2 separate regions of the Homo sapiens genome follow, and region 2 is reported to be linked to region 1. The links are microRNA targets in miRTarBase. Many come from high-throughput screens and were not tested one by one. Region 1 holds a microRNA gene; the other region holds the end of a gene's coding sequence.

Region 1 (5,375 bases):
ATCCTCTTGTGGACCTATCGAAATCAAACCAGCGCAGGCAGTGAGCACTAGCTGGGGTCTGCCGGGGGGAAGGGCATTGCAGGGGGTGTCGGGGAGGCCCGTGGGAGAGGGCCAAGGCCCCACTGACACCTGCGGACTTGCAGCTTGGGGAGTGGAGGACAGGAGACAGGCAAAATTCACCAGTTACACAGCTTACAGAAGTAGCAAAGCAAAGACTATACTTCAGGGATAATTTCTGTACTTTGTTACTAGAGAAGTTTTCCACTCTGGGACCCCACAGTCTCCGCAGACATATGCAGAGCAAAAAATACTTCCTGTGTTTGGGAGAGCAAGAGACATGGCATTTATTAATAACATGGATTTTCCTGCCAGGTTTCATAACGTGGTCATTTAAGTGTGAAATGTAGTCTTAAAATTATGTTAGAGAATCCCCAAGGTTTTGCTCTGCCCCCATGGAAACACTGGGATCGCTCAGGACGCCAACAGCTGCATAGCAGGCGAGGGACTCCTGTGGGAGGACGTGGCCTGTGGACACTGCCAGGTTCGGAGATGTCCTTGGGAGATTTACTATTTGTCAGGAAGATAGTGTTAAGTTCAGGCAAATAATTATATGTGTGGACAGAATCTGAAATTCACCAATAGAGTAAGTAAGAGTGAGAGATTGTGAATGTGTAATACAAATGGAAAAGCAGGTTTTATTTTGTTAAGTTATTCACCAGGGAACCAACTGAAGTTCCTTCTAATCCTCTTTTTCTCCATTCTTGCTTTGCTGAAAGTTGGAGAAAAGGACATGTGTAGAGAAAATGGGATGCTTCAGGGTGGCTCAGAGGACACCAATCCATAGTGATTCGCCTGAGTTTGTCAGGTGGAAGCAGTGATTTTTAAGAGTCACTGATTAAAAACAAACAGTCCTAAGTGTATTAGGGAGATGCCATTTATTTGTGAATCAAAAACTTTTCTCAGTCTCTTAAATTATGGTTTTCCTGTAATAAGAATGATTTATATTTTTAGTGAAAAGTTGTTTTCCTTTCAAATACAGACTTTTTAAAAAGACTTAGTTTGAGTAAGTACCTTTTCATTTGATGCTTTTCTTGTGCCTAACCTTAGGAAATCCAGAATAGTATTTGACAGAAATTATGTTTTCAACTTGCCTTTGACATCTGTCCCACTGCATTTTGCTTTAAAATTCTTTATTTAACAATAAATTATCTAAAAAAATAACAGTAGCAAAGCAAAAAGTACTCATCTTTAAAGACAGACTCGACGGAGGGACCGGAAATCAGAAAAACATCAGGGTTGTTTAGGAATTGCAGGTGCAGGAGGAGAGAACAGGAGTGGGGCGGGCTGGGGGCAATGAGAGAGCAAGAAGAAAAGAAAAATAAAAAGAGAAGGAGAAGAAAGAAATGGGCTTTTGCTGGGTGCAGGCAGTGACATTTCTCAGGACCCCTTATTTCTCCCTGTGCCTTCCGGAGGGAGCAGCCCAAGGCTCCTGGGAGGACAAGCAGCACGTGCCCGCCGGCAGAGCTCAGCTCCAGCTGGAGGACCCCTTTGTGGTCCTTGCGCACACTGGGTTTTCCTTCTTCCCCAAATATCCGACGCGTCCAGTCCCTTACTCCTTCCCCAGGCAAAACCTCCTCACCAGGAACAACCTGAAATCAATTTACACTGTAATCAAAATAGCAGAGGGTGGAAAGTGTTTCCTTCGAGGAGGGGACTTACGCTTCAAGTAAGGATTGAGCACCCTGGATCCTTAACTGAAGAGTGAGGTCAGAAAGGGCGGACGCACAGCAGCAAACGGGGAGGAGGGTGCTGTCCAGGAGCCGCTGACTTTTCCCTTCAGGAAGCTGCCAGACCATCTCTCTCTGCTAAAGGCTTTCAAGATGATACCCTTGAGTGTTGGGAGCAAAGGGACCAGGTACCTGTTCCTCCTGGCTCAGAAGATGCTCTTGACAAAGTCTTAGGGAGACCTCAGCTTTAAGTTGTTTTATCTGGCAGCGGGATTTTAAATTTTGTATTCATTAGTTGGCTGGTTGGCTGGTTTTGTGGCTGGCACCGTGTGAGCCGGTCGCTTCTTCAGTGCCTCTGTGTGATGGCAGGTTAGGGTGAGTGTTTGGTCTGTGGCCAGCTGGTTCCTGAGACGGTCATGGTTTTGGGTAACAGGAGTGACGGAAGGGTGTACCCAGACACACGACGTAGCTGGTGAGGAATCTGAATTCGAGAAGTGCAGAGCGAGGCTCTGGAACCAGACAGTGGGTGGAACCCCACCCCACCACTCACCCACTGTGTGCAGGAGCAAGTCACTCAGCTCCTGGGCCTCCGTTTCCTTATCTATAATTTGGACCTATTAGTAATAATAATAATAAAAATAATAATACTGAGGTATAGATAAGTGTTTGATAGATAGGAAGTACCCAATGCATGTTAGTTTTATTACTGTCAGCACGTGTGTGTGTGTGTATGTGTCTGTGTGTGTGCATCTGTGTGTGTGTCTATGTGTGTGTCTGTGTGTGTGTGCATGGGTGTGTCTGTGTGTGTGTGCATGTGTGTGTGTCTGTGTGTGTGTGTGTGTGTCTACAATCCTCCTCCCCTGAAGATTCCATGATGGGAATCACACGGGTGTATCACAACAGAGAACTGAGGTCCCTCTAGCACTTCCACGGTTCTGGAACATCCTGCCCCAATCCCCTGTCCCCAGGAGGTGGCAGCCTGCCCCCAGTCCAGGGAAATTGGAGTGAGTGCTCCTTCTGTGAGAAGGCCAGCTGTGGGACCTGTCTCGCGCCCCATTACCACCTTATGAGCAGACCTGTGTCACAACCTAACACAACCTCGACTAATTCCCCAGAACCCAACCCATCTGAATGGATGCATAAACACACCCTGAGCCCCTCTTGGTTTTGGAAGTTACTAGCTGAACACTGACGTGCCCCTCCTGGTTTTGCTGTCATGGAGCTCTAACCTGTGTCTAGAATCCAGAAGAAAAGACTGAAGTATAAAGGAAAAGAGAAGGGAACAGAAGAGAGGGTGAGAAGGTGCACAACCAGTGTAGACCCCTTTGCTGGAACCCTTCCTTGCCAGCTTCCCCACCTGTCGCAGAGAGGCTTCCACCAGTAGCCACAGAGGGTGAGAGTCTGGACTGTCCAGCCAGGGCCTGGACCCTGCCCGAGGCCTCTGCCCATGCTGGTTATTGTGTGAATCGTGTTCCAATAACTGAGAGGTGTCAACACGGCCCCGCTTCGGGGGGACCCCACCTCCTGTCCTTGAACCTTCTTGAAACACACCTGGAGCTGTCCCAACCTGTCCTCTGTTTGTCCCCTCAATTTTAGCTCTAGGAGACAGGGCCATCAGCCCATGCGCCTCACAGGCCACCCCTCTTCCCTTGTATTCCTGCCTGTCTGGGTGCCTCCTAGCCTAAGGGTCCCTGGGGAGCCTCTACCACCTCATTAACTCACCCTGCACACCTCCTCTGATCCTTCTGCCTCTGCATGGCCCAGCAGCTTTGAAAGTCCTTCCTTCACACCTGCTGATGGTGTTGCTGACAGTGTGGCCAGTGCCCTGTGGCCACAGGACACCGGAAACACCTGCCATGCCAAGGTCTCGGAAGAAAAGCCAAGCCGTGGGGGCCGACGGGGAGACAGAGAGGGTTGGAGAGAGGAGCCCACCGTGGCCTTCCAACAAGGGCACTGTGATGAAGTGAAAGGCAAGGGGTGCAGTCCCAGGACGAAGACAGTGCGTGGGCGTTGGGAAGGCAGGGGGAAGGGAGGTGCTGACTTTGATTTCAAGAGCTCCTAGCAACCCATGGGAGTGGGCATTGGTTTCTTCCATGGTTCAGGCAGAGATTTCGGTCCAGCCAATGACAGAATCTGCCTAAAATCTTGCAGAACTAAATGCAAGAGAAATATGGAGAGTTTTGTGTATCTCCAGAGACTCATTGGCAGCAGCACACTCTCTGGCCGTGAGTCATTAGTGGGTCCCAAGGGAGCAGAGCATCAGGAGTGAGGGGGTAGCCCTTGTCTGGGCCAGGTCTGGGCCTCCTGGGTCATAGATGAGGAAGGGGTGGCTAGATGGGATGACTCCATCACTGTAGCCCCGAAGATGCTATCGACACAGAGACAGTTACCAGCTGGCCTCCTGAAGGCACAACTTGAGGTCCCAGGCCTGGAGGAGAGTGTCCTAGGATGTCGTTGGGGCTGGCAGGCAGCCACCTGCATGCACTCCACTTCTGAGAGAGCAGAACTCTGTGTTTGTTCCTCTGTTTTGCGGACTCGATGTTCCAGACCAAAGGGAAGTGGGACGAAGGTTGGGTTGGTGGTGGTGAGGCAGGAAGAATGAAAATGCATCTGAGATCTTCAGAGATTGCCCTTTGTTTGAGGAAAGTCGCTAAGCCCAGAAAAGGGGGGGCGCTGAGCCCCCACACATTGTGTGGCTCTATTCCTGGCTCTAAACAATAAGCAGCACAGAAGCTGCTTCCTCTGGGATCCTTCAGCCTCGTCCCCTTGCAGCTCTGTGAACCTGGGCAAGGCCACGGATGCCATTAACAGTGTCCCCTGGGAAAATTAGAAGCAGCTCTCCCCTCTGGCCATGGAAGAAGCCAAGCGCTGAGGCTTGTAAGGAATTTGAGAACTAGACAAAAATAACTGAGGCCACAACAGACTTCAGGTCTGATGGAGTGAGTTCCAGCTCCCCCTACCTTTGCACGTCGCTCCAGCACCCCTTTGTCCCTCTCCAGGTGGCCCCCACTGCTGACGAGAGATGGTGGACCTCTCAGTCTCCCCAGACTCCTTGAAGCCAGTATCGCTGACCAGCAGTCTTGTCTTCCTCATGCACCTCCTCCTCCTTCAGCCTGGGGAGCCGAGCTCAGGTATTGTGTCTGCAGCCTAGCTGGCCAGGATGTGAACGCCACCCCTCCTGCCAGGTGCTCCCCAGGGCTACGATCTTAGCACAGTACCAGGGCGTGCCAGACGCTAAAATACAAAAAAGACTTCCATCCTGGTTGTTAAAGAGCCACTACCCCGAGCATTACCCAGCCTGTAGTGATGTTCCTCCACCATCTCCCCAGCCCCCGACACCTCCTCCACCATCTCTCCAGCCCTCAACACCTCCTCCACCATCTCCCCAGCCTGTAGTGTTCCTCCACCATCTCCCCAGCCCCCGACACCTCCTCCACCATCTCCCCAGCCCCCAACACCTCCTCCACCATCTCCCCAGCCTCCAACACCTCCTCCACCATCTCCCCAGCCTCCAACACCTCCTCCACCATCTCCCCAGCCCCCAACACCTCCTCCACCATCTCCCCAGCCTGTAGTGTTCCTCCACCATCTCCCCAGCCCCCAACACCTCCTCCACCATCTCCCCAGCCCCCAACACCTCCTCCACCA
Region 2 (5,375 bases), not on the chromosome of region 1:
GAGAACCGGAAGACAGCACTTCAAAAGGAGAGGAGAAAGGAAATGAGAATGAAGACGAGAACAAAGACTCTGAGAAAAGCACAGATGCTGTTTCGGCTGCTGACTCTGCGAATGGATCTGTTGGTGCTGCTACTGCCCCGGCTGGATTGCCCTCAAACCCGCTAGCCTTCAACCCTTTCCTCCTGTCCACAATGGCCCCGGGCCTCTTCTACCCATCCATGTTTCTACCTCCAGGACTGGGGGGATTGACGCTGCCTGGGTTCCCAGCATTGGCAGGACTTCAGAATGCCGTGGGCTCCAGCGAAGAAAAGGCTGCTGACAAGGCTGAGGGAGGACCCTTTAAAGATGGAGAGACCCTTGAAGGCAGCGATGCCGAGGAGAGCCTGGATAAGACTGCAGAGTCCTCCCTCTTAGAAGACGAAATAGCACAGGGTGAAGAGCTAGACTCACTTGATGGGGGGGATGAAATAGAAAACAATGAAAATGATGAATAACCAGTACCAGTTCCAGTTCAAGTGTTTAAAACTTTTGACAAGTGGTAGTCCTACTGTTTACACTCACAGTTAATGTTCATACCTAGTTTTATAAGCTGTTCTGTAACATAGTGTAGCAAAAAAAAAAGTTCAAGTCATGTTATACAGGTGTGTCAAAAGGTATCTTGGTCATTAAGTATTGTGCAGTGCATTATTTATTATCCCTAGGAGAGATGAAATTTGAGAGGTGATCATGTCTTTTTAAGGAAACTTACATAATGCTCTGCTTTTTTTTTTTCTCTTGGTACCATTGGTATTATAATAAAGAGCAATTTGTAACTGAGTGGCACTAATGGAAGAAAGTGCTGCTCAAAGGAAGTATGAAGTTATATATTTAATTTTTTAATTTTAATTTTTAATTTTTTTGCTGTGAAGGTCAAGCTGAAATTTACCATACATATCATACTTGCTCATTTGTTTCCCTTTTTGACTGTATGGGGGTTCCCACACTCGTGCATACACACACATCCATACACTCTGACAATCTCCACGCTAGTGTGAACGCCTCTGTCCCGAGGCGCAGCAATAATAAGGCAGCTGTTGAATGTGAAGGGTCCCTTTGGAAAATTAACCTACTGGGAGGGTTCTTGCCAGACAGAACTACAGTTCCATTGTCTCGTGGTCTTGTAATGCACTGGTAAAAACAAAATAAATAGATGAATAAATAAAGAGTGAGAGAAGAGAGAATCAGGTACCTTTTTTAAATTAAAGGACTTTGTTACTTTAGCCACAAAGCTAAAACAGCATTACCTCAGCTCTAAACTAGCCTTGAAGTTTACAGACATGACTTTGTAAATGTATTGTTTTTCTTTGTTGTGATGTCCTTTTATTTTTTTCTTTGAAAACTGCTATCATGTAAGATAAAATGTAAATTGCTGCCAACTGTAGTAATGATGCTTTTAATAAAAGTGACCCATGATATGCAGAGATGTAATTATAGAATGTAGTATATAGGGAAACTGGTGTTCACTCTATTTTTTTTGTATTCGCAATAGATGCAAATACAGCATTCTGGCTTTTGTACAGTTTCTTGATATATCCTCTTATACTAGATTAGCTTTTGGTAAGACACTAAACTGTCTCGAAGACTAGACAGGAAGGAAAACCTTGAATTACTCTCACATAATTCCACTCCAGATATCTCAACAGAAATGCATACAAAAAGCTCCTATTACTCCCTCAAAAGGGCATCTGAGACCGAGAATACTTAGAAATGTGTGCAGCGTGTGATAATGTGGTACACTGAAGAACAAAAGGGCAAAAGAAAAATGAGGCTTTAACAGGCACAATATCTAGGTCATTTATCCTTGGTTAATGGGTAGAAAAACACAATGCGGTAGTGTCAGCAAGGGACACAAAGGCACTCTGGTGTCCTGCAGACCAGCGCTCGATGCCAGAAACCAGTGTGTGGAAAAACCCATGTGGAATTGAAACAGACCCACTTAAGCACGCACGCGCGCACGCACGGTCTCAGGAGCTACTGATTTGTGGACCCCTTTTTGACCTTTGGTATTTAAAGTAAAATATAATTTGAGATCTACTGTTTTCACCTTTTTATGTCACCTGAACCAACACAAAGCCATATTTCCATCCAGTTAAAAAGCAGGGGAAGGGATGTGGACGAGAGTGTTTCGTGTGTGTTGCCTTCCTCCACACCCTTCCCCCAGGACGTCCGCACACAGTCCACCTCCAGCCAGTGTGCTGCCAGACAGGTGGTCTAAATTCCTCCCAGACTGTGAGATTCAGTTCGTTTATGCCCCAAGATGAAAATATGCCCCTTAATGATTCTGGGAAAGAAACAACCTGAACCCTCCACCTTACAGATCCTGTGATTGCTTTTATTTATCATCGTCGTTGTCTGCTGAAAGTGAATGGGCCGTGCACACTGGAGGAAAGTGCCTTGAAGAGAATATTTTTTGAAAGGGAATTATTTGAACACGGGAAAGTGAAACTAGGTCTGCATGAAGTATAGGAAATTTAAGTATTTAAGTAACAAAGATGTTAGCAGGGAGAATTTGCTTAATAAAATGAGTCATTAAAGGGTGTTTTTTTTAAAGTTCTTTGTAGTATTGGAAATTTTCCTATGAGCCTCTGTAAATAGAGAATATAATGTGACACTGTTAGGATAAAATTCTAAGAGCAATGATGATCTTCAAAGCAAAGCCATCAGTTGCTCGTGGCCAGAGGACCCCTGAGTTGTTGGGGCTCACTGGCTTGTTATGTGCATCATCCGGTACTCATCTGTTGACGTGGCTTTAATGTCATTCACATTTTCATATTGAAAAATGCATTTTTTTTCTTCCAGTGAAATTCATTCTTGGTAGTAGATCTTGAATCTACCTAAGTATTTTATTTTCTTTCTTTCTTTCTTTCTTTTTTTTTTTGTTGTTGTTGTTGAGACGGAGTCTCGCTGTCTCCCAGGCTGGAGTGTAGTGGCACAATCTCAGCTCACTGCAAGCCCCGCCTCCCACTTTCACGCCATTCTCCTGCCTCAGCTTCCTTAGTAGCTGGGACTACAGGCGCCTGCCACCACGCCCAGCTAATTTTTTTTGTATTTTTAGTAGAGACGGGGTTTCATCGTGTTAGCCAGGATGGTCTTGATCTCCTGATGCTTGTGATCCACCTGCCTCTGCCTCTGCCTCCCAAAATGCTGGGATTACAGGCGTGAGTAAAGTATTTTCAATTCAGTCAGATACTAATGGGTATGATCGTGTGCCTAGCATGGAGGAAGCACTGAGGTGCCAAGGGTTCTCCTGGCATTGCTCCCTGATGGAAGTTCTGTTCTTCCCTGAGGAGGCTGAGGCCCGGGAGTTGGCATCATCCCCAGCAGTAAGTGCAGGAACAGGACTTGAACTCAGGTGGTCTGACTGCAGAAGTCTGTGTATGTGCTCCTAAAATACTGTGCTTTTAGGTCTCTGAAAGAAAATTATGACATAAGGATAACTGAAAGTTCGCTGTTTATTCCCCTTCATAACATCTTAAGTTTGAGGTTGGGAATTAAGAGAAAGTCTTGAATTAGAGACTTAGCTCTGGCTAAGGAAATGAATCCCACCTACCTCATTTAAATTTGGATTTATTTTGCCCCACAAGTATTTCTATTTTATAAAGAAATCAAGTCTTTAAAAAGAATTTGTCCAAATAAGTTACAGAGAGAGTAAATTGCCAGCCTGGTATTTGAACCCCAATTGATGTAACTCCAAAGCCCAGGCTCCTAACCACTATGCTAGTGTAATTAACATTCATCAGCAACATTGGGTGCTGTGTGCTAGAGGCTGTGCTGGGAATATAGAAATGAAAGCAAACAGACTAGTCCCCTGCTGTCATGCAGCTTACATCCTAGTACGAAGAGATGCATAATAGAATACAAATAAAATGTTTGCAGGGCAAGGAAGACTCTTAAATAAGGTGATAGGATGGCCAGGAAAAAGCTCTCTATGGAGGAGACAGCTCACACCTGAGTGATGAGAAGCAGTAGGCAGACTATATTCTAGTTGGAGAATTGTCCAGACAAAAGGAATGACAAACGCAAAGACCTTGAGCTGGTAATGAGCTTGGAATAAGGAGTGGAGAGGCCATCTGCCTTGAAAAGTTGGGAGGCATGGTCAGATTACATAGGGCCTGGATGGCTCTGGTGGAGGATTTGGGTTTCATGCTGAGTGCTGTAGAAAGTCTTCTGAAGGTTTTATGCAGAAAAATGGTCATTTTCATGTTTTTAAAGGATCATTATGTCTGCAGTTCAAAAAACTCCCTTGTAAAGGGGAGTCAGCAATTCTAGCTGGGAGATGGCTGTAGCAACCTTGGGTCAAGTTTAGTGGGCAGTAATGGAGAAGGAAAGCCATGGATGGACTTGGGATATGTTTTGAAGAGGTAGACCCTCCAATTTAAATGAACTTTTCAGTGAATAATTTGTATTAATTCTTCAGGACTACTACTAAAAACTAACAGATAAAGAATGTTCACCATGCTAATTTTTTTAAATAAGAATGTTGTGATTAGTGTTAGAAGAAGATACTGGGAAAATAAATTTTTCCATCATGTACATTATAAAATTTTCTTTTTAGTTCAATGAAAATTGTTAATTGTCTGTGGGAAGAGTTTTAGACATTAATCCTGACCGGTAGAGGAGGTGAGAGTGAGCATTGTTGAAGCAATGTGTGTTACAGCAAACATCTCTGTGTCTCTAGGGCCATCAATAAATTTAAATTAGGAAGCAAAACAATGTAAATGACTTCTACTAACAAGCACTTAAAAGAATACATCTTATTCATTCAACTTGGCTCTCTAATGAGCAATTTTATATTTTCTTAAGCACAGGTAAGATTTACCACAGTTTTACAGACATAGTAAAATAAGCTATATTTGGCAAAATAGATGAATAAATTACCTTCGGGAATACTTTACCTAATGTAAGACTCTTAAGCATTTCATTATTGAGATTTTTGGTAGGGGAGTCACTTAATTTGAAGATTTTCTGGTAAGGGTTAGGATGATCGTTTTCTAAGTATTCTGGACTATTTAAGTTATTTTATGCAGTGCAACATAGCGCCACCCTCCCAATAGGTCTATTTGTTTATAAACCTTGTTTTGGATCTACAGATGTAGATTTGAATTTTAATTTGGATCTCCTTAATCAAATGTGTACTATGTAATTTAAATGAAATTAAATAATAAGCTAGTGACAAAATTTGAAATATTTTGACATCTAATATCTTTACCTTCCGAACGATTTACTCTTTTTTTTTGAGATGGAGTCTCACTTTGTCACCCAGGCTGGAGTGCAGTGGCACAACCTCGGCTCACTGCAACCTTTGCCTTCCAGGTTCAAGATTCTCCTGCTTCAGC

The links. The annotated mature microRNA hsa-miR-8089 reads CCUGGGGACAGGGGAUUGGGGCAG and lies in region 1 at 2,673-2,696, opposite strand. An mRNA with a match to its seed (bases 2 to 7 or 8) in the 3' UTR can be bound and repressed. Matches are read on the target gene's strand: a 7mer-m8 pairs with bases 2 to 8, a 7mer-A1 pairs with bases 2 to 7 and ends in A, and an 8mer does both.
Region 2: miRTarBase lists CHD7 as a target of hsa-miR-8089. The part of its 3' UTR that is shown has no 7-base or 8-base seed match.

The regions. Positions count from the first base shown.
Region 1 is chr5:181,040,741-181,046,115 of GRCh38, forward strand. It overlaps MIR8089 (microRNA 8089), which reads right to left and starts at 2,744; the gene lies at 2,663-2,744. BTNL9 (butyrophilin like 9) reads left to right here. Exons shown (of 11, transcript NM_152547.5): 2 at 4,727-4,858. The coding sequence starts at 4,750. RefSeq lists a silencer at 5,142-5,375.
Region 2 is chr8:60,865,440-60,870,814 of GRCh38, forward strand. It overlaps CHD7 (chromodomain helicase DNA binding protein 7), which reads left to right. Exons shown (of 38, transcript NM_017780.4): 38 at 1-2,589. The coding sequence ends at 494. Among named protein-coding and RNA genes, the nearest start is that of CHD7, 190 kb to the left of the region's middle.